Linked DNA regions of Homo sapiens: region 2 is linked to region 1. Evidence: fine-mapped expression QTL. A gene starts in region 1. The other region holds a variant in brackets. All regions are shown on one strand. Distances are from middle to middle. Region 1 holds the start of C15orf62 (chromosome 15 open reading frame 62). Region 2 overlaps RMDN3 (regulator of microtubule dynamics 3).

Region 1 (8,594 bases):
AGCCCCAGCACTGCCTTCCCACCCTTTGTGCTCCTCGCCTCCCCACATCAGAAAGCTCCCCCAACCCCTCTCCCGCAGGAAAGGCCAAAGCGTTAACACCCATCACTTGAAGGCTGCTGAGGTTGGCATCTCTGCTTAGAGGGCTAGAACGCTGGTTCCGTTCTCTCTGTGGGGGTAGAGAGAGCCTCTTTATAGCTGACTCAACGGATGGGACAGGACTAGATGCTGTGTTTGGCAGGAGCTGGCTGTCCAGAATGAAGTTGGCCTGGTGGATAACCCTCTGAAGATTTCCTGGTTGGAGGGACAGCCCCAGGATGCCGTGGGCCGCAGCCACTCAGGACTGTCAAAGGTGAGGAGTCAGGCCTCGCCCGGCTGGGCGCTCAGGTCTCGGAGCTCTTCCTACCTGGGCTCCTCTCAGGCTCTTTCCTTCCAAATTCAGATCTTGGGGCCTAGAGTGAGCTTGGCAGGTCCACCAACCCAGGCAAGAGGGGCTGTGATTTCACGTTGAACCCTTTTCCTCTCTGAGGGCCAGAGAGGCCCCACCCACACTGTATTCTTAGACCTTGCTTTCTCTCCATATCTGGCCTCCTGTTGGGACTCTCCTTCTCACCAAAGGGATCTTCCTGGCCCTCAGGTTGCTTGGTTGTGGTGTGTGAAGCATTTGGAGCTTAGACGACCCAGTGCTGCAGAGAAGGGGCAGGTGACTAGGACAGCCACTTCCTTCCCAGCACTTCAGTTTTCTGGATGTGTCTCTGGCTGCCCCAGAAAGGGACCGACTGTCAAGAGGCAATATCTCCTCTTGAAGTAACCCTGGCAGGCTGGGCGCAGTGGCTCATGCCGTTAATCCCAGCACTTTGGGAGGCCGAGGGGGGCGGATCACCTGAGGTCAGGAGTTGAAGACTAGCCTGACCAACATAGTGAAATCCCGTCTCTACAAAAACACAAAAATCAGCTGGGCATGATGGTGCGCACCTGTAATCCCAGCTACTCAGGAGGCTGAGGCAGGAGAATCGCTTGAACCAGGGAGGCAGAGGTTGCAGTGAGCCGAGATCGTGCCATTGCACTCTAGCCTGGGCAACAGAGCAAGACTTCATCTCAAAAAAAAAAAAAAAAAAAGAAGGAACTCTGGCTACCCTGCTGACACGGGGTGGTGCCTGCCCAGAGTCTGGGTGCCCTGCCTGGGTGAAGCGTAGACCTTCCAGCTTGTGTGTAACCCCCAACCTGCAACCATGGCCCTGGTGTCTTTTGGCCTGGATACAAAGGCTAGGGCTGTGGGGCTCCTGGCCACACCTGTCCCCACCTTGGTGGAACAGATTGCTTTGGGGGCAAGATCTAGCAACCTGGTTCTTCCCTTCTCTGCAGTGGCCCAGGGCCTGTCTGGTGTGTCCACAGCCCCTCAGCAGGCTGGCAGGAGGCTGCTCTCATTACTTTACCCACGCCAGCCTGCTCCGTTGCCTGCCCCTCCACTTGACTGGGGTGACTGGAAAGCAGCTTTCTGCAAGTGTGTCCCAGATCCTGGATGGAGGGAAACAAACTGGCCTGGGCCTGACTCAGGGCCCTGCTTTAGAGACCTCATTCCCACCTTCAAGTCCCAGCATTTCACAGCCCCAGATAACACTCCATAGATTGTGTTAGAATTTTATTCATTCTCTCCTGTATCCACAGCTCGGTACCTATACACAAGAGGAGGAAAGAGGGAGGCCACTGATTTAGGTCGTAGAAATGGTGTGTGTCAGAGCTTCCCTCTCCCCTTTGCTACTCTTAGCGAGTCCCGGGGGGCCACCAACACATGGCCCAGCCAGTGCTGCTGGGCTCTGGTTTCTGTGTTCTGGTGAGGCCATGGGGTGGGGCCGTAGCACAGCCTGTGGCTTTGACCCAGTGGGCTTGGCCTGGTTGGCAGGCCCATCGTCGGAGGGTTCAGGCGGCAGAACTGTCTAATCCCGGGAGACGGTTCTGGAAACCAGCTGTGCCGCTTCGCTGTTGAATGCCCATCCCTGGATCCAGTTCTCCTCTCTTCGAGGAAGGAAACCTGCCAGGGCTCCCATCACTAGTAATTCTGGGAATTCCCCAAAGTACCCCTTTGCAAGCCGTGCGCGTGCCTGTGGCTGGCATTCTCTAGAGCTGCCTTCCTTCACCAGGGATTGCTCCGGGTAGCTGTGTTGGCAGACTGAGCCACGTCCTCATTTCTGCTAAGGATTTGCCTGGTCTTTTTCCTGAGTTATACTCTATCTCTACCTATCTCTTCCTATGTGGCCAGCCCCTGTATGCGCCTCCCCTTTGCTGGTGGCTCCAGGCCATGGTCTAGACAGCGCTGTCCATTAGAACTTTGTGCAGCGATGTTTACGTCCATTCTGCACTGACCAGTGTGGTAGCCATTAATCATGTGTGGCCACCGGGCATTTGGAATGTGGAATCTGGAATAACGGTGCAGCTGAGGAACTGAACTGTTAATTTTATTTATTTCAATTCAGTGTCATGCAGTGAGTGGCCACCAGATTAGACAGGGTCAGGCCTTCTCCCCTTTCTTCCTGGGCCTTCCCACTTTCCTCTTCTGCCTGGGTTGGACTGCCTTTACCCAAGCTTGTCCTGTGACCTCTCTCTGTTGACAGTGGCTTCCAAAGAGGCTGGCATGGGGCACTCATCTCTTCTGCTCAGTCTGTGTCCTCCCACTCCCTGATCTGACCCCGTGCCACCTTCTGGCTCTGCCAGCCTCTACCTGGTTCCTGTAGTGCCGCACAGAGCCTCCCTTTCCCGGCACAGCCTCCCTTTCCCGGCATAGCCAGCTTTCTTCAGGGTCCTGCCAGGAAGGGCCGCCCCCCCAACATTTCCAGATTGCCTCTGTCCCTCCACTCTGGGGTGCCTGGAAGGACTGTCCAGGACCCAGAGAGCAGGCAGAGCCCTGGATTCCTATCCTGGAATCCTCCCCCAGGATGAAGAAGCTCTGCCTGCCTGAACCCTCCAGCGATGGGCCTGGAGTCCTGTCCCTGTCCTTTCCTTAATCCCCAGCCTCTGGATCTTCCAGTCACCCCGGCTTTGCCCACCCTCACCCCATTTAGAAGCTGGGCTCGCTAGGAAACTGCTCCCTTAGCATCTGCAGAACTTCCTCAAGAAGTGAAATCCCCAGGTCCACTTTGAAGGAGAGGAAGGGATCACTGAGGTCTGGGGTAGGTGTCCTCTGGAAGCAGGGAGTGTCCACAAGGCCCTTCTCTGAGTGCTGGTGGAGGGCACTCGACAGAGAGAGCGCCGATGGCAGGGTGGCAGAGTAGGCTGCTGTGTAGGCAGGTGGGGGCTCCAGGATGTTGGGGCAGCTTGAGCTCTCTCGGTAGAGGCGTGGGGGCTTGGGTGGGGCCAGCAGGGTGGCCCGGGGCTGCTCGTCCCCCCACAGTGGCAGGCGCCGGCCATCTGGCCTCCCTTGTAGCTCCCGGATGACTTCTCGGTTGCTGTACTCCTCGTGGTCCCCACCTGCTGTGCTGGCCTGGCTAAGCACACTACTCTGTCGCCGGAGCCGCCGTGGCCGCCCCAGGCTCAGCTGCTTGAAGAAGGAGGCGTTGCGGAAGGAGCCTTTCCGCCAGGTCTCCATGGGGCCCAGGGGAGCCAGCAGACAGGTGTTCAGGAGCAGCCAGGGTGCATGTGGTCCCTGCTGGGGCAGTGAGTGCCAGCAGCTGGGGAGGCTCCCCTAGGAGCAGAGGCCTCAGGGTTTCCACTCAGCACAGACCTTTGACCACATCTTGGATGGTGAGAGGAGGGCTCAGGAAGAAGGAACTTTTTTGCCCAGGAGAGCAGACAGCTGGGAGTTCCTGGCAGCAAGAGTTTCCCACAGGGACAGGAGTGGCCTGGTTACTGAATAGGGTAGTGGAAAAAAACCCAGGAGGAAGAAGCAGCACTTACTGGAGCCAGAATGAGGGCAGCTCCGGCGGAGGCAGAGGTGGACCTTCTCGGGCTGGGTGAGGCTGGCGAGCGCTCCTTCCACAGGCAGGCAGCAGATGGCCCGAGCTCACTCGCCCTGGTGTTTGCCTGGCTCCTATATGTCTCTGGGGCAGTGTGGGGCCGTGCCCTCTCTGCCAGTGGCTCCCGGACTCTGATGAGTGGCCTGGCTGTTTGTGGCGGTGGAGATGTGTTTTTGTTCTCAGCTGACTCAGTCAGGTGGGAAGCCAGGTTTCGTGCTCTTGGGTAATTGCAGCATCCGCGTGCAGGGATGGGGCAGCTGGGACCAACACCCCAGGGCAATGGGGAGCTTAAGATTCCTCTGGGGACTCGTGTGGGGGCAGCCCTGCTTTATGTGTCACCACGCGGCTTCCTTTCTGATCACAGCCCCACCACCCTGGGCCCCCAGCAGGTGCGCCTGGCTCCCTGCCCACAGTGTCTGGGTAGGAAGAGTTCGGGGCGGGTGGGAGTTAATTGAAAGGCAGGCGTGTGGAACGATTGTTGGGGAAGGAAGAGACCTGTAGCTGGTATGGGTGACTCAGCCCCGCTGTCAGGCCCTCACGAGCAGGAACAGGAAGGGGGGCAGAGGGTGTGTTAATGGGGAGCAGCGCCATGCCTGTGATGGGCGGGCTCTGCTGCCCAGGGTTGGGCTGGGGGCCCGCCAAGGGTGGCTCCAAGTTTTCTTGGCAGAGCAGCATTAACCTGGGGATGGGAGATGTGGCCTCCTCTTGGCCTGCCATCAGCCTGGCTGCTATTTCCTTGTCCTCCCTTGTTTTACCCTAGAGGGCTCCTGCCAGGAGAGCGGCTGCTGAAGGCCGGGCCGTGTTGCCTCCTACCTGGCTGTGCTCCAGCCCTTCCCCTCTGGCTACCGGGCTTCCTCTGGGGTCCTCCTTCTCTTGCAGGAGGCTGGGCCAGGGAGGCTGCCGTGAATTGTCAGCCGTGCTCTGGGCCAGGCTTAGCAGTCCGGCCTAGCTGGGACTGCTGCAGCCGGGGAGAGGGGAGGGGTGCAGCCATCGGGAGGAACAGGGGAACCCAGGCTGAGTAACACTTCCTGTTTCTCTACACCCCTTACTCCAAACCTGCTGGCCAGGGCCTGGCATCTCAACCCTAGCTGCTCCCTTCCTATTCCCCGGGTCACTGACCACCACATTTTCCTCCTGCCTTGCTCTGTGACAGCGTCCCCATGCGGGGTACCGCGGATCAGGGCCCCACAGCTCTCTGCTACGGGCAGGCCACCGCATCTTGCAATCCCTGGCCTAGCTCACTTCTGTGCCAACTCAGGTGTGCTTCACACTTCTCTGAGAAGCTGTTGGGACCACATGATCATCACACAGCCTAAGCGGCACCGAGGGAGGAAAAGGTTTAATTCCCACCGCAGACCTTATCAGGGCGTGGGTTGGCAGCTTAGGTCCCGCTGTAGAGCTGCTTCTCCACCCTACAGCCTTGGCCCATTCAGATGGTTGTTTATTATTCTTTTGATTATGGGCCCTGCCCTCCAGGAGCCCTGGTGTGTAGTTTTAGAGGCACGCTGGCCTCATGCTTGCCTTTTTCCCCTTCGAGGGTGGGGCATTCCGGGCTGCCTCGGGTAGGGCTCCCTTCTGCATCCTCAGCAAGAGCCAGACCACAGGGCACCGGGCATAGAGAGTGCCAGGGTCAGTGCCCAGCAGAGCCAAGTGCATCCCTGCTCCTCAGACAACTTCCCTTCCTTGGGAACCTAAGAGGCAGAAGCTACGGGGTAGAGGGAAAGGGGTGAAGGGTAAAGGGCCCAGAGGAAATGAAGGGAGACGAGGGCCTGGCTTAGAGGGCCCGCAGGTGATTCCTGAGAAACAGATGGACCGGAGCTGACGCGGCCTGGGGAAAGGGAGGGGGAGCTGGCTGGGTAGAAGCCGGCCTGGAGGCCAAAGGTGGCGTGTTCTGGGGGACACAGGCGAGCCAGGATTCCAAAAGGATGCTCCGGGTTCCTTCCCTTCCTCTGCCGTCCTCCCTCCGAGACTCTTAGAACGCAGCACTGCCTCGGCACCGTACTCGGAGTCTGTGAGGCTGTGCCCTGCTGTCCCTGACCCCTCCCTGTCCCTGCCCTGTCCGACAGGGCTCAGTGCTGTCAGAGAGGGACTACGAGAGCCTCGTCATGATGCGCATGCGCCAGGCGGCCGAGCGGCAACAGCTGATCGCACGGATGCAGCAGGAAGACCAGGAGGGGCCGCCTACGTAGCCCCAGCTCCAGCCATCCACCCCTCAGCCCTTTTCTTCAACGTCACCAATAAATTTTTTTTTTTTTTAAGATTTTACCTCTATCCCATACATAGGTATAAGGTGCTGGGCTCTGCCGCAGAGCGCTCCACCCAGGCCTGGCGCCCCTCCCAGGAAGTGGGCAGACCCCCAGGGAAACGCTCCGCAGGGTGAGAGTCCCAGAGTCCGTGCACAAGCAGAGCACAGGCGCAGCCACTCATCACAGCCCTTTATTGGCTTGGGCTAGCTATGCAGGAGCCACGCGCCAGGGCCGCTGGAGTGCCCAGCTCCGGCCCGGGGCAGCTGCCCGAGGAACATGGCCTACACAAGGCCCTCGGCCCAGGCCCGAAGCAGGAGGGCAGCTGGGAGCACCAGGGCACCGGGCACTGCCCTCTCCCACTGCTTGACGCAGGGTTTCAGAGAAGGCCATTCACTGCCCTTTGGGGCTGGGCCCATGGCGGTGATGATTTGGGAAGAGAGGAGCAAGGCAGACGGTGAGGCAGGAGCTTGGAGGTCAGGGCCCACAGCAGCCCCTCCACAGGGGTGCCCCGTCTGCAAATCAGCATGAGAAGGTCACTCCTTGTGCAGACACCACACCAGCGTCTGGCCCACCCCCGTCATGCTCAGCACACGGAAGCCCCTGCGTTCCAGCTTGTCCAGGACTATGCGGGGAGGGTCATCGACGTAGTATTCATAACTGCAAAGAGACAGGATGGGGGGGGTGAGGAGGGGCACACAGCAAGCTCCTGGTACAAAGCTAGTGTCTGCAGCAGGCAGCCTGGCCACTCTTGTAGTGACTCACACTTGCTGGCTGCTTGCTGGGCGCTGGGGTAAGTGCACGCCCCCTGCCTCCTCCCCTTCTAGGTACTTCACGAGCTATCTCATTTATTCTTCCCAACAAGCTAGTGAAGGTGCCACTGTTGTGGCCATTGATAGATGAGAAAACAGAGGGGTTAATCAGGTTCCCCAGCGTCCCAGATGGTAGACCATGTTAGTCTGACCACAGCCCTGCTGCCGCCCTCCCTGGGCTTGCTCCCCACCCAGGCTTCCAGGTAGGAGGAGGCTGAGGCTGCAGTGAGCCATGATTGCACCACCGCACTCCAGCCTGGGCGACAGAGACTCCATTTCAAAAAAAAATAAGCCTCCAGGCCCCTCACTGCCCTGGCTGTCCTGCAGTTCTGTAGCAACAAGGCTGAGCCCCAGTAGCTCCTGGCTCTGTGCGCCACTCCCTAGCATGGAGAGTGCTGGTAGTCCTTCTGTCAGGTTTAATTGATGCTGAAAGACCATGAAGCAGACAAAGGGCTCAAGCCCCAAGCTGGGCATGGAGAGGCAAGTGCCTCATGGCAAAGGGAGGGGGCTGGCTTCTGTCCCCGAGCCTTGACCCAGGGGCTGGGATCAGCCCTCCTCTTTCCCCGATTTGAACTGGCACTCACTCTGACAACTCTTTTCAGAGAGCCTGTGTAGCTTGGGTTCTCCCTGCCTCCAGGGGTGAGAGGAGGAATGGAAGCAGTAGTCACAGTTTAGACATGGAGGCATTAGGAAGAATGCCAAGGGAAATGGCTAGGTCCCCAGGCAGCAGCCACCCTGGAGGTAGGACGCAGGCTCCCTGCTCCCTGCTTCTAGGGCTTAGCTTTGCGACTCATGCAGATCCTCACGACAAAAACCTTTCTCTCTGTGCCTGTCTGTCCTTGATGGGGTCCAGCTTAGGAGAGGGCAGGGCAAGGAACAGTCTGCTAGTGGAGTCCTAGACCCAGGGAACGGACTCTGTTTCTGCGGTTCCAGTAAGGATGTGGAAAGCTTTCAGAGCAAGCCTCGTGGGGGAGAGGGGGGATGTTGGAGAGGCTACAGATGGGACCAACTCCTCCGGAGAACAGAGCCCCAGGATGCAGGCAGGGGGCTCTGATGCTGGGCCCTGTCCCTGGGCTTGGAGGTTGTATAAAGGGAGCAGAGGCAGGTCTAGGGGCTGGCAGGGAGAGGATACTGAGGGAGGCTGCTACTTACAAGTTGTTTCCCAAGGCTCTTCTCTTTGAAGCCCCCAGATGCTGCATCAGCTCTGGATCCGACTGTTCATCGCCCACCATAGTGGGGCCCACCTCCTGCAAGGTAAGCCACAGTGGCTGCTTGGCTGGCTGCCAGGAGGAGGTGGAAGGTCTTGCCTGTCCTTCCTCCCCTGCCTGCTAGCCCTGAGTAAGGTTCAGGTAAAGGCTACAGAGAGTAGCAAGGATTCTTAGGGGCTGAGCACAAGCTGTGAAGGGGTGGAGCCCATCAATGATCAGGAGGAGCAATGTAGGCGCCCTCCCTAGTGCCTTAAAGCTCAGCTTTAGCCAGGCAAAGTATCACGAGCCTATAGTTCCAGCTACTGAGGCTGAGGTGGGAGGATCGCTTGAGGTGGGAGGAGTTTGAGGCTGCAGTGAGCCATGATTGCACCACTGCACTCCAGC
Region 2 (12,122 bases), 29 kb after region 1:
AAGGTGTTTTTTTTTTTTTCTAATAACTAAAGGGGAAATCTACTTGGATAACCTCTTAAAAAACAAAGGTGCAGTTAGGAAAGGTTTTAAATACCTTACAAGTTCTTGTAGTAGATGTGTCTGGGGCCTCTTTTTTAGATGAGGCTGAAGCTCCTCTGTAAGGATGCAGTCAGCACGGACTGGGTACCAGGTCTGGCTGCTCACTTCCAGAGCCTTCAGAGCCTGCCACCTTGTGGTTTCTGGTTTTCTGGGCAGGACAGCACTTCTGCCCTGACATTAGGCTGTCAGTTGTTGACTTTATTTGTAGGTGGTGTGTCATCTCTCCTTCAGTCCTGTTTTGCTCCAGCCACAGGGAGCCTATTCTTTTTTTTTTTTTTTTTTGAGACGGAGTCTTGCTCTGTCGCCCAGGGTGGAGTGCAGTGGTGTGATCTCCGCTCACTGCAAGCTCTGCCTCCCGGGTTCACGCCCATTCTTCTGCCTCAGCCTCCCGAGTAGCTGGGACTACAGGCACCTGCCACCATGCCTGGCTAATTTTTTGTATTTTTTAGTAGAGACAGGGTTTCACCGTGTTAGCCAGGATGGTCTTGATCTCCTGACCTCCTGATCCGCCCGCCTCGGCCTCCCAAAGTGCTGGGATTACAGGCGTGAGCCACCGCCCCCAGCCTTGTGTTTGCTTCTGACCCCCAGAAGTCCTACCTTTTCCCCTGCTCAGTCCTTATCTATTTTAGGCATTTAGGGAAAACACCCTAATCAGCTGCTGGTGGCTGAGATCCAAGAGAAACTCAGCTTCCTCTTTAGTGGGTGCATCAGGGTTGGGGCTCCTTAGGAGCCACCTGGCATATGGCAGCCCCCCAAACACCTTTTCAGGGGGTAGTTTGCATTGTCTTCCCCTTCTTGCTTCTGGCTGCAAAGTGGTTCCTATCACCTCTCCTCACACCCTTAAGTTCTCAAGGTTACTATGGGCTACTCCTGTTGCGGTTTAGGTTTGGTTGTTGACTTGGGCCAGAGGTTGCGAGTTTGTGGATGTGTGTGTGGCTGCCCATGGCCTGAGGCTGCACCCACCCATGTTGGTTGTGGCAAGTGTCTCTGACTGATAAGGCAAAAACGAGCAGGGACTTCTCACATTTGCCTTAACTGTCACAGGGCCTCAGCTGGTTGTCTGCTCTTTCCTTCCTGGATCATTTTCCCAGCCCTTAGTTCCCATAGGAAACTTTCTCTCAAATAATGATTTCTGCTGGGCATGGTGGCTCATGCCTGTAATCCCAGCACTTTGGGAGGCCGAGGTGGGCGGATCACTTGAGGCCAGGGGTTTGAGACCAGTCTGGGCAACATGGCAAAACCCCGTCTCTACTAAAAATACAAAAAAATTAGGTGGGAGAATTGCTTGACCCCAGGAGGTGGAGGTTTGAGTGAGCCAAGATCGAACCACTGCACTCCAGTCTGGGTGACAGAGCGGGACCCTGTCTCAAAAAAAAAAAAAAAAAAGAAAAAAAGTCTGCCCTTAAGAGGTATGAATGATTGTGATTTGGTGCTTTGGACAATGCCATGTAGAGTGCTTCTTTGGGGGTGAGGGATAGACAGACCCTAGGGGCTCTGAGCTGAATAATCCTCTTGTTGTCCCTTACATTTCTCTGCCAGTTACACAACAGCCAATGCGGAGTCTGACAATGAGCGGGACTCTGACAAAGAAAGTGAGGACGGGGAAGATGAAGTGAGCTGTGAGACTGTGAAGATGGGGAGAAAGGATTCTCTTGACTTGGAGGAAGAGGCAGCTTCAGGTGCCTCCAGTGCCCTGGAGGCTGGAGGTTCCTCAGGCTTGGAGGATGTGCTGCCCCTCCTGCAGCAGGCCGACGAGCTGCACAGGGGTGATGAGCAAGGCAAGCGGGAGGGCTTCCAGCTGCTGCTCAACAACAAGCTGGTGGTGAGGCTCCAGCTGCCTGTCTCCTTCTCCTTCCCTCCCTCCCTCCATCTCTCTGTTCCTGACCCCTGGGGAATGAAGGCCCGTGTGGTTACTGCCCCTACAAGGTGACATGGGACGAGAAATGGTGAGACAGCTGGTTTTGCATCTGTCCCCCAGGTCACATATCCTCTTCCAAGGAGGCCCAGCGTGGATCCTAGGGCCAGTGTACTGCTTGCCCCAGAGCTGCCTCCCCTCTTGGGAGGGGGAGTGTAGTTCTCTGCTTTCTGTAGAGCTACTGCAGAAAGAGCTCTACCTCTCACCTCTAGGGGGAAATGTGGAAAGAACTGTATTTTTTTTTTCTCCTCATTTCCCTTGAGGCAGAGTCCAAGCTGCCAGCCCCATTACAAGCGACAACTGTGTAGGTCACTCAACCATAATTCTCTTGTCAGGTTCACTGACAGAATATATGCCCACCCAGGTATAAATGCCCCCCCCCCAGAAGTTAGAAGTTTCCCTTTTCCTTTCACACTTTCTTCATGTGTCAGCAAAAGACCTCTCGTGCCTTATGACATCTTGGAGTTGACCTTTCCTCCCAGCAGTTCTAGGAGGTCAGAATGCCCTCACCCCGTAATTGTGCAAGCTACTGGCTAGACAGAGAATGTGTCATACATTAACTGCACGTGGGAAGGGATGACTGGGGGGAAGGCTGCGTGTAGGAGCTGGCCTGATATTGATGACTGTAACATACTAGCTTGGAAATTCAAACCTAGGGTGTGGGGGAAGGCCAAGGCCCCCATTCTCCACAGTTGAGGAAAAAGGGGCCTCACCCGTTTCTGTCTGGTCTGCAGTATGGAAGCCGGCAGGACTTTCTCTGGCGCCTGGCCCGAGCCTACAGTGACATGTGTGAGCTCACTGAGGAGGTGAGCGAGAAGAAGTCATATGCCCTAGATGGTAAGTGCTGACAGCTTCCTGTGGGAAGGTGACTGACTGATTCAGGGGTGGGGCTGGCCCATCTGCCTGGGGACCCGGGGAACCACCAAGATGCTGTCAGCAGTTGTGGCTCAGTTACCCACTAGGGACAAACTCTGGCTCCCAAAGACCCTTGCTTTCTCCTCTGGAAGAAGAGAGCAGTCTTTGCTTATCTGTATATCATGCTGATTAGTAACACACGTGCATGTGTTTCTAGGAGTAGTTGTATCCTATCAATGTTATTCGTTTTTCTCACTCTAGCCACAGAGGGCAAAACCTTTTTTCTTAACCTGAGGTTTTTTGCTGCTGCTTAGAAATCTGGTTTCAGTTTTCTGAGCTGGTGGGGCAGGTGTTCTAAGAATATAGCTAGCTTAGAAGACTCTGGAATCCACTTGGCAAGTCTGTTGGCAAAGGCTCCACCCTGGAGGATAGGGTGCATCTGACCTGTGCCAGGCTCAGGGCTTGGCCTTATCTGTCATGAGGTCAGAGAATGCTTGGACTTTAGAGACTGATGTGTCCTGCTGAACTCCACACACTGAGTCAGGTACCATCAATGGGTAATGGGTTTCTAGGTCTGTGGTTCAGTTAATATCTATTTTTTTTTTTTTTTTAAACAGTCTTTCTCTGTTGCCCAGGCTGGAGTTCAGTGGCCTGATCTCGGCTGACTGCAACCTCCACCTCCTGGGCTCAAGCAATTCTCCTGCCTCAGCCTCCCCAGTAGCTGGGATTACAAGCACATGCCATCATACCCGACTAAGTCTTGTATTTTTAGCAGAGATGGGGTTTCGCCATGTTGGCTAGGCTGGTCTTGAACTCCTGGCCTCAACTGATTCACCCACCTAGGCCTCCCAAAGTGCTGGGATAACAGGCATAAACCACTGTGCCTGGCCAGTTAACTGTCTAAAATGGATTTGTCTACCTTTCTATTGTAAGTACAGCCTTACAAATATTATTGAATCCTTGATAATGTATACTCAAACAGTACCTCAAAGTTAACATTCTAAACATTTGTAGAATTCTGTCAATGGAGAAAGAACAGACCAATTGAGTAGGATGTCTCTGTAGACCCTCAGAAAAATTCCTGGAAGTTTTAACAAAAGATGCTTATTTATGATTACTTTTTCTCTCCAAAAGTTTGTTTTCCCTCCTAAATTTCAGATGAGGATTCTCAGCTTTTGGGCTGATTTTTGGACTCTTCATGTCAACAACCTTTCCTTTCCCTCTTGATCATTGGTCATCTCTTATTAGTGCTAGTAGCCAGCATGAACCCCAAAGACAGAAGTGGAGGCAGTGGTTAGCAGGGCAGCACTTGGTTGGTCTGGCCTCCTGAGCTTAGCACCCATGGACAAAGCTTTACCTGCTGGAGGTCAGATGACTATGGAATGTCTTTGAAGGTTCTGCTCTGAGATCACAGCCTTTAAGAATTATCCTTACTGGGTATAAAGTTTATTTCATTGTATCTCTAGGAGCTGGACCACCAGGAGGCAGTCATTCTGTGGGGTCTCAGGCAATGTCTTGTCTACAACACTGTCTGTCTAGCTTGGCAGGAACTAGTTGTCTCATTCTTTGCTATTATTTTCCTAGTGAGACAGTACTTTGAAGAGGGCAGAGAGAAATCCCCAAAGAGGCAGCGTCCCTCATTGGTGGGGCCATGTGGTCCCTCTCTTTGGGAAGAGAGGTAGAGTCTTTCACAGCATCAGTTGTCTTAAGAATGCATTTGTGGCCAGGTGTGGTGGCTCATGCCTATAATCCTAGCACTTTGGGAGGCCAAGGCAGGAGGATTGCTTGAGCCCAGGAGTTAGAGACTAGCCTGGGCAATATAGTGAGACCTTGTCTCTACAAAAAAAAAAAAAAAAACTTAAAAAATTAGCCAGGCATGGTGGTGGAACATGCCAGCAGGAGGATTGTTTCAGCCCAGGAGGCAGAGGTTGTAGTGAACTGAGATTGCACCACTGCACTCCAGCCTGGGCAACAGAGAGAGACCCTGTCTCAAATAAAAAAAGGAAAACATTTCAGATTAGCCAGTTTACCACCTCAATGCATTACATTTGTTCCATTTTCTCCATGTTCCCTTCCAAACTTGTTTTCTTCAAAGAATTCTTGGCTGGGCACGGTGGTTCGCACCTGTAATCACAGCACTTTGGGAGGCTGAGGTGGGCGCATCACCTGAGGTCAGGAGTTTGAGACCAGCCTGGCCAACAAGGCAAAACTGTCTCTACTAAAAATACAAAAATTAGCCAGGTGTGGTGGCACACACCTGTAATCCCAGCTACTCGGGAGGCTGACGCAGGAGAATCACTTGAACCTGGAGGCGGAGGTTGCGGTGAGCCTAGATCGTGCTATTGCACTCCAGCCTGGACGACAGAGTGAGACTCTTGTCTCAAAAAAAAAAAAAAAAAAAAAAAAAATCCTATGTTGCAGTGTCTTCTCCAGTGCATAGGCATGATGGTCCTTATCTGGTGGTCCGTAAGCTCCAGCCTCGATACTCTTAAGTGACGCTTGTCAGAACTTTCATGTTTATGGGCTTTCATTTCTTTGTTAGAACACTAACCTAGAAAACTCGGGTAAGACTAAGTGAACGTCATCTCTGGTCAGACCTCAGTCCATGTGGCTCTTGTGAAAGAGTTTTGGCCTAGAGCTAATTAATATTGTTGGATCGTGGATCCTTTTGAGAATTTTTTTTTTTAAAGAGATGGGGTCTGCCTATGTTGCCCAGATTGGTCTTGAACTCTTGGTCCCAAGCTATCCTCTCCTTGGCCTCTCAAAGTTCTAGGATTACAGGTGTGAGCCAATGTACCCATCCCCTTTAGGGAATTTTTTCAAAGCTGTGATCTCTCTCCCCACTTACTTAAATTTTATACAACTTGAGATTCATGGACACTGCCCCTCCAGAGTAAGGTCTGTTGGGGACAATTTCTGATTGTGTTGGATCCGTTGTTGTTGTTTTTTTTGAGGTGGAGTTCGTCGCCCAGGCTGGAGTGCAGTGGTGCAATCTTGGCTCGTTGCAACTTCTGCCTCCCAGGTTCAAGTGATTCTCCTGCCTCAGCCTCCTGGGGAGCTGGGACTACAGGATGTGCCAACATGCCTGGCTAATTTTATATTTTTAGTAGAGGCAGGGTTTCACCATGTTGCTCAGGCTTGTCTCAAACACTTGGCCTCAAGTGATCCACCCACCTCGGCCTTCCAAAGTGCTAGGATTACAGGCATAAGCCATCGTGCCTGGCTGGATCCTTTTATATTTTAAATGCTAAAATCTGCTTCAAGCACATCAGGTGGGCATTATAAAAAGAAGGTAACTGGGGTTTCTAATGACAGATGGGGAAGCCAAGGTGAAGCAGAAGTCATCCCTGAAGTCTTCCCTTAGAAGCCGTTTGCAGCCTTTTCTGAGACAGTCTTGCTCTGTCACCTAGTCTGGAGTGCAGTGGTGCAATCTCGGCTCACTGCAACCTCTGCCTCCTGGGTTCAAGCGATTCTCCTGCCTCAGCCTTTTGAGTAGCTGGGACTACAGGCGCCTGCCACCACGCCCAGCTAATTTTTGTATTTTTGGTAGAGATGGGGTTTCACTGTGTTGGCCAGGCTGGTCTCCGACTCCTGACCTCAGGCGCTCTACCCGCCTCAGCCTCCCAAAGTGCTGGGATTACACAGCACAGAGGCGTGAGCCACTGTGACTGGCTTCTTTGCGGCCTTTCATTCTGCTCAAGTTCACAACTATTTCCAAACAAGTCCAAGCTGGGTAGGGATTGGTGAGAGCTAAAGCAGTCATTCTTCCCACAAGCCTTCCTATGAAAGTGTGCATAAGAGCTATGTCAACTCTGGATCTACCTTCGTCCTACAGGAAAAGAAGAAGCAGAGGCTGCTCTGGAGAAGGGGGATGAGAGTGCTGACTGTCACCTGTGGTAATAACACCCTGCAGTGTTCTGGGAAGAGCCAGCAAGGGCCAAAGCAGAGGACAGCCCTTTCTTTTCTCTGCCTGGGCCACAGAGGCATTTTCCAAAGGATCCAGGAGAGGGAGTTCTGGCTTGTATCTCCACATGCCTCAGTCTACCCCTAGCCAGAGACAAGGGAAGTTTCTGGTAGGGGAGGTGGCTTAGGGATGAGGCAAGCGGGGAATACAAGCTTTTTTTCTGATGGGGCTTGGAGAAATGAGTAGCTTTGTTAAGAGTCATCCTAGCTACAAAACTGGAGTTCTTGGCTCTCAGGAGGCTGGGACAATCTGCAGCTCCCCTATCCTGCATAAGCTCTTCTTTCCCCTGCGTGTGATCCCTGGCTGCTGGTACTTTGGCTTCTTTGCTTGGTTCATGTGAGGAAAAGTAGATGTGAGCTCACCCCCCAGAAGTTTAGTGGTCAATTTATTAGGCTGCAAAAACATCAGCCCTTTTTGTGGTCTCATGTGAGGCAAAGTTCTGTCAGCTTACCTGGGCCACGGCTAACTCATATCCTGGGGTCTGGTTCCAGCACCTGAGTTTTAGTGAAAATGTTCCTTTCCTTTCCCACCGCCACCCTTGCTTTCCATGTCTCCACCCTCAGACTGTGAGCTAAGTGAGAGGCTGTGTTTCTCCATCTGTTGCTGAAACTTTTGTCTCTGCAAGGGTTCTTCTCAGAGGCCAGGTAACTGTTTCTTGGGTGTCACTGCTTCCCTGGGCTTCCAAGGATGAACAGCTATTCCTGAGGAACAGCTGTTTGGATTAAACATGGAAATGAGCCTCTAGAAGTATCTGATACCCCCCG[GA/A]TACTTAGCATATACATGAAAAAGCAACTTGGGCTGGTTACTCATCGAATGTCAACTGTGCTGCTAGGAACAATGCTGGGGGGATGGGGAAGTAAGACTTTGTTTCTGAAGACAGATGATGGGAAGCTGGCTGGCTGGTTCCCTTTGGGAGGGGGGATGTGGGGGAGAAGGCATATATAGGAGGTCTTTCTTCCTCTGGTTCTGTTGGTTTCCAAGTAACATCAGAAATTCCTAGAATATCCCCTCCCAATGTGACTATCCTAAGAAATTGCTTCCCAAGTCCCAGTGATACACCTGTATGCTTAAAGGCTAATGAGACCCACTTTTTTGTCTGCCCAGAAGATAAGTAGTATAGTCAGGTCTCATACTTTTATGCTGATTGTTTTCATGCTTTTCAAGTTTTTATTAATGCCTGTGGCTGTACTCCTTATGAGTGTAGGAGAGATTTACTGTGTAAGAGAGATTTACTGTGGTGAACCCAGCTTTTTTTATACCTAGAATACTTTGGAGACTTGTAAGCCTACCATTATCTACTAAAGAATACTAATTGGGGCCAGAGGTCCGTAAAGAATGGGGATTACGTACAGATGAAAATTAGGTATTTTCAGCTCTAGTTGAGGGTACAGGGATAGGGGACAATGCAACTAGGCTGTGGTTGGGGCATCCATTCCTTGCAGTGATGGTACTCAGCCCTTGTCCCTGAGCTTGCTGCTTCCCCCCTAGGTATGCGGTGCTTTGTGGTCAGCTGGCTGAGCATGAGAGCATCCAGAGGCGCATCCAGAGTGGCTTTAGCTTCAAGGTGAGGACAGGCTTTTCCTCCTTCCTTGTGCTGGCCTATCCCAGATTCCCCACTCCTTTCCAGCTCCCTGCCAAAAACTTTTCTACAGCCTCAGTGACTTGCCTTTCTTCTTTTTTTTTGAGACAGAGTCTCACTCTATCGCCCAAGCTGGAGTGCAGTGGTGTGATCTTGGCTCACTGCAACCTCCTGGGTTCAAGCGATTCTCCTGCCTCAGCCTCCCAAGTAGCTGGGATTACAGGCATGTACCACCATGCCCGGCTAATTTTTGTATCTTTAGCACAGATGGGGTTTCACCATGTTGGCCAGGACTGGTTTCGAACTCCTGACCTCAGGTGATCCACCTGCCTCAGCTTCCCAAAGTGCAGGGATTACAGGCATGAGCCACTGCATCCGGCCCTTGCCTCTCTTTTAGCAACTCTGGTGTCTGATGTTAGTTTATATTTACATTTTCCCCTTAGGAGCATGTGGACAAAGCCATTGCTCTCCAGCCAGAAAACCCCATGGCTCACTTTCTTCTTGGCAGGTGGTGCTATCAGGTAAGCTGCGTTTCAGTGCTTGACATAATGGTCCTAAATGCCTTCTGACACCGATTTCCTTGCCAGGAAGAACAAGATCCTCAGCCTTCTCTGGCTCAGGTGCCCTTTCTTCTGAATGCTCGTATTATTGGTGGTTCGACCCAGCCCCGTTTGACCCTATTTTCAATATATCCCCAAAGATTTAAAGAAAAAAAACCTTTTAAAACCTCTTATACACACCTTGATCTTTTTGTGGCAGGTCTCTCACCTGAGCTGGCTAGAAAAAAAAACTGCTACAGCCTTGCTTGAAAGCCCTCTCAGTGCCACTGTGGAAGATGCCCTCCAGAGCTTCCTAAAGGTATGAGAGGGGCAGGTGGCAGGCAAAAACACCAGGGTAACCTTGTTTTTTCCTAAGGACATTATTGAGACCCTTAATGGGAGGGGTTTTCCTAGTCGGGGGCAATTTTGTGTTTGCCTGTTCTATGGGAAAACCAGAATCACTTGCACAGCTTATCAAAAATATAGGTTTCTTCAGACCCACTGAATCAGCCACATGGTTGGGGACTAGAAATCTAGTTTAATAAACTTCAGCCTGATTAGAATATAGGAACCTCTTACTGAAATATCTTTGTCCCTTTTCCCAGGCTGAAGAACTACAGCCAGGATTTTCCAAAGCAGGAAGGGTATATATTTCCAAGGTAAACTCATTTGTCTACTTCAACATAGATCTGGGAACTCCTGAAAGTACACAGTATCAGGTTTCACTGTTGTCTCTTTTCAGTGCTACAGAGAACTAGGGAAAAACTCTGAAGCTAGATGGTGGATGAAGTTGGCCCTGGAGCTGCCAGATGTCACGAAGGAGGTAAGGCTTTTTAATACTGCCTGTTGGGCAGATCACCTGAAGTCGGGAGTTCGAGACAGCCTGACCAACATGGAGAAACCCCATCTCTACTAAAATTACAAAATTAGTTGGGCCTAGTGGCGCACGCCTATAATTCCAGCTACTCGGGAAGCTGAGGCTGGAGAATCGCTTGAATCCGGGAGGTGGAGGTTGCAGTGAGCTCAGATCGTGCCATTGCACTCCAGCCTCGGCAACAAGAGCAAAACTCCATCTCAAAAAAAAACCAAACAAAACTGCCTGTCATCACTGAATCATCATGTGACATTTTTAGAAAATAATCTTTCCTAGAGGTCTTATTTCCCTAGTAAAAAAGAGTCTACCTCTAGGGGAAGAGACAGATTTAATAGGCTCCAGGCTATCCTGGGGAAGTAGGAAAAAGACTGTAGCAGAGCTCAGGAAGGAAGCAAAGGGCCCCTCTTCTTAGGTTCCACTGGTTTGGGAAAATGCTGGTTTAAATTTTGAGCCCTAGATTTGTTCTTTGTCTCCCTAGGATTTGGCTATCCAGAAGGACCTGGAAGAACTGGAAGTCATTTTACGAGACTAACCACGTTTCACTGGCCTTCATGACTTGATGCCACTATTTAAGGTGGGGGGGCGGGGAGGCTTTTTTCCTTAGACCTTGCTGAGATCAGGAAACCACACAAATCTGTCTCCTGGGTCTGACTGCTACCCACTACCACTCCCCATTAGTTAATTTATTCTAACCTCTAACCTAATCTAGAATTGGGGCAGTACTCATGGCTTCCGTTTCTGTTGTTCTCTCCCTTGAGTAATCTCTTAAAAAAATCAAGATTCACACCTGCCCCAGGATTACACATGGGTAGAGCCTGCAAGACCTGAGACCTTCCAATTGCTGGTGAGGTGGATGAACTTCAAAGCTATAGGAACAAAGCACATAACTTGTCACTTTAATCTTTTTCACTGACTAATAGGACTCAGTACATATAGTCTTAAGATCATACCTTACCTACCAAGGTAAAAAGAGGGATCAGAGTGGCCCACAGACATTGCTTTCTTATCACCTATCATGTGAATTCTACCTGTATTCCTGGGCTGGACCACTTGATAACTTCCAGTGTCCTGGCAGCTTTTGGAATGACAGCAGTGGTATGGGGTTTATGATGCTATAAAACAATGTCTGAAAAGTTGCCTAGAATATATTTTGTTACAAACTTGAAATAAACCAAATTTGATGTTATCAGCTCTTTATTCTTACTTGACACCTCCATAATTGTTTCTACCTACAGAGGCTGTTGCAGGCAGGTTATGGTTAATGCTCTTTACAGTATATAAAATACAGGTATCGAGCTTATTTTTAGCCTAAACAAGGCCTATTGCAACTAAGCAGGTACTCCCTGCCTTTCTCATGTTCATTTTTAGGGCCACGAGCACAAACCCCTAAATCCACCTAGAAGAAAATTTAAGACTGAGATGCATAGGCCGAGCGTGGTAGCTCATGCTTGTTGCTTGTAATCCTAGCACTCTGGGAGGCCAAGGCGGGTGGATCACTTGAGGCCAAGGGTTTGAGACCAGCCTGGCCAACATGGTGAAACCCCCATCTCTACTAAAAATACAGACAGAAAAAATTAGCTCGGTATGGTGGCGCACGCCTGTAATCTCAGCTACTAGAGAGGCTACAGCAAGAGAATCACTTGAGCCTGGGAGGCAGGGGTTGCAGTGAGCTGAGATCACACCCTTGCGCTCTAGCCTGGGCAACAAGAGCAAACCTCTGTCTCAAAAAAAAGATTGAGATGCTTTCATATAAGAACCAACCCCTTAATCTAGAATGTCACTGTGTCTTTATTATACCAACCCAGATTTTTTTTTTTTTTGCTGGAGTCTCGCTTTGTCACCCAGGCTGGAGTGCAGTGGCGCGATCTTGGCTCATTGCAACCTCCACCTCCTTGATTCAAGCAATTCCCCTGCCTCAGCCTCCCAAGTAGCTGGGATTACAGGGGCATATCACCACGCCCAGCTAATTTTTTTTGTATTTTTAGTAGAGACGGGGTTTCACCATGTTGGCCAGACTGGTCTGGAACTCCTGATCTCAGGCAATCCACCTGCCTCAGCCTCCCAAAGTGCTGGGATTACAGGTGTGAGCCACCGTTCCTGGCCCCCAGATTTATTTTGTGTTGTAGTAATGAAAGAGGACCTGAGATATACTCAATTCTAATAATAAAACATTCTTTTTTGGTCTAAAACCTAGATTTGGTGGGTCTGGGAATCCATCTATCTCCAGGTGATATTCCCAAAGAACAGGCAAACACAAAATTGCCCCTTACCAGAAACCCCTCCCACCAAGGGTCTCA

Evidence for each region.
Region 2: its variant is fine-mapped to the expression of C15orf62 in whole blood (TOPMed, PIP above 0.99).

What each region holds. Positions count from the first base shown.
Region 1 is chr15:40,765,482-40,774,075 of GRCh38, reverse strand. C15orf62 (chromosome 15 open reading frame 62) reads right to left here and starts at 4,096. Exons shown (of 1, transcript NM_001130448.3): 1 at 1,627-4,096. The coding sequence starts at 3,580. The coding sequence ends at 3,053. GCHFR (GTP cyclohydrolase I feedback regulator) reads right to left here. Exons shown (of 3, transcript NM_005258.3): 2 at 8,155-8,249; 3 at 6,368-6,850. The coding sequence ends at 6,727. DNAJC17 (DnaJ heat shock protein family (Hsp40) member C17) reads left to right here. Exons shown (of 11, transcript NM_018163.3): 10 at 239-349; 11 at 6,014-8,594. The coding sequence ends at 6,136. RefSeq lists enhancers at 2,963-3,579, 3,537-3,626, 3,580-4,198, 4,817-5,435, 7,896-8,594.
Region 2 is chr15:40,734,776-40,746,897 of GRCh38, reverse strand. It overlaps RMDN3 (regulator of microtubule dynamics 3), which reads left to right. Exons shown (of 13, transcript NM_018145.3): 5 at 1,639-1,921; 6 at 2,749-2,851; 7 at 6,705-6,765; 8 at 8,322-8,397; 9 at 8,856-8,933; 10 at 9,172-9,270; 11 at 9,557-9,610; 12 at 9,694-9,774; 13 at 10,304-11,011. The coding sequence ends at 10,357. Among named protein-coding and RNA genes, the nearest start is that of RMDN3, 14 kb to the left of the region's middle. RefSeq lists a silencer at 136-305 and an enhancer at 5,497-6,369. The variant GA/A (reference allele first, on the strand shown) is at 7,598.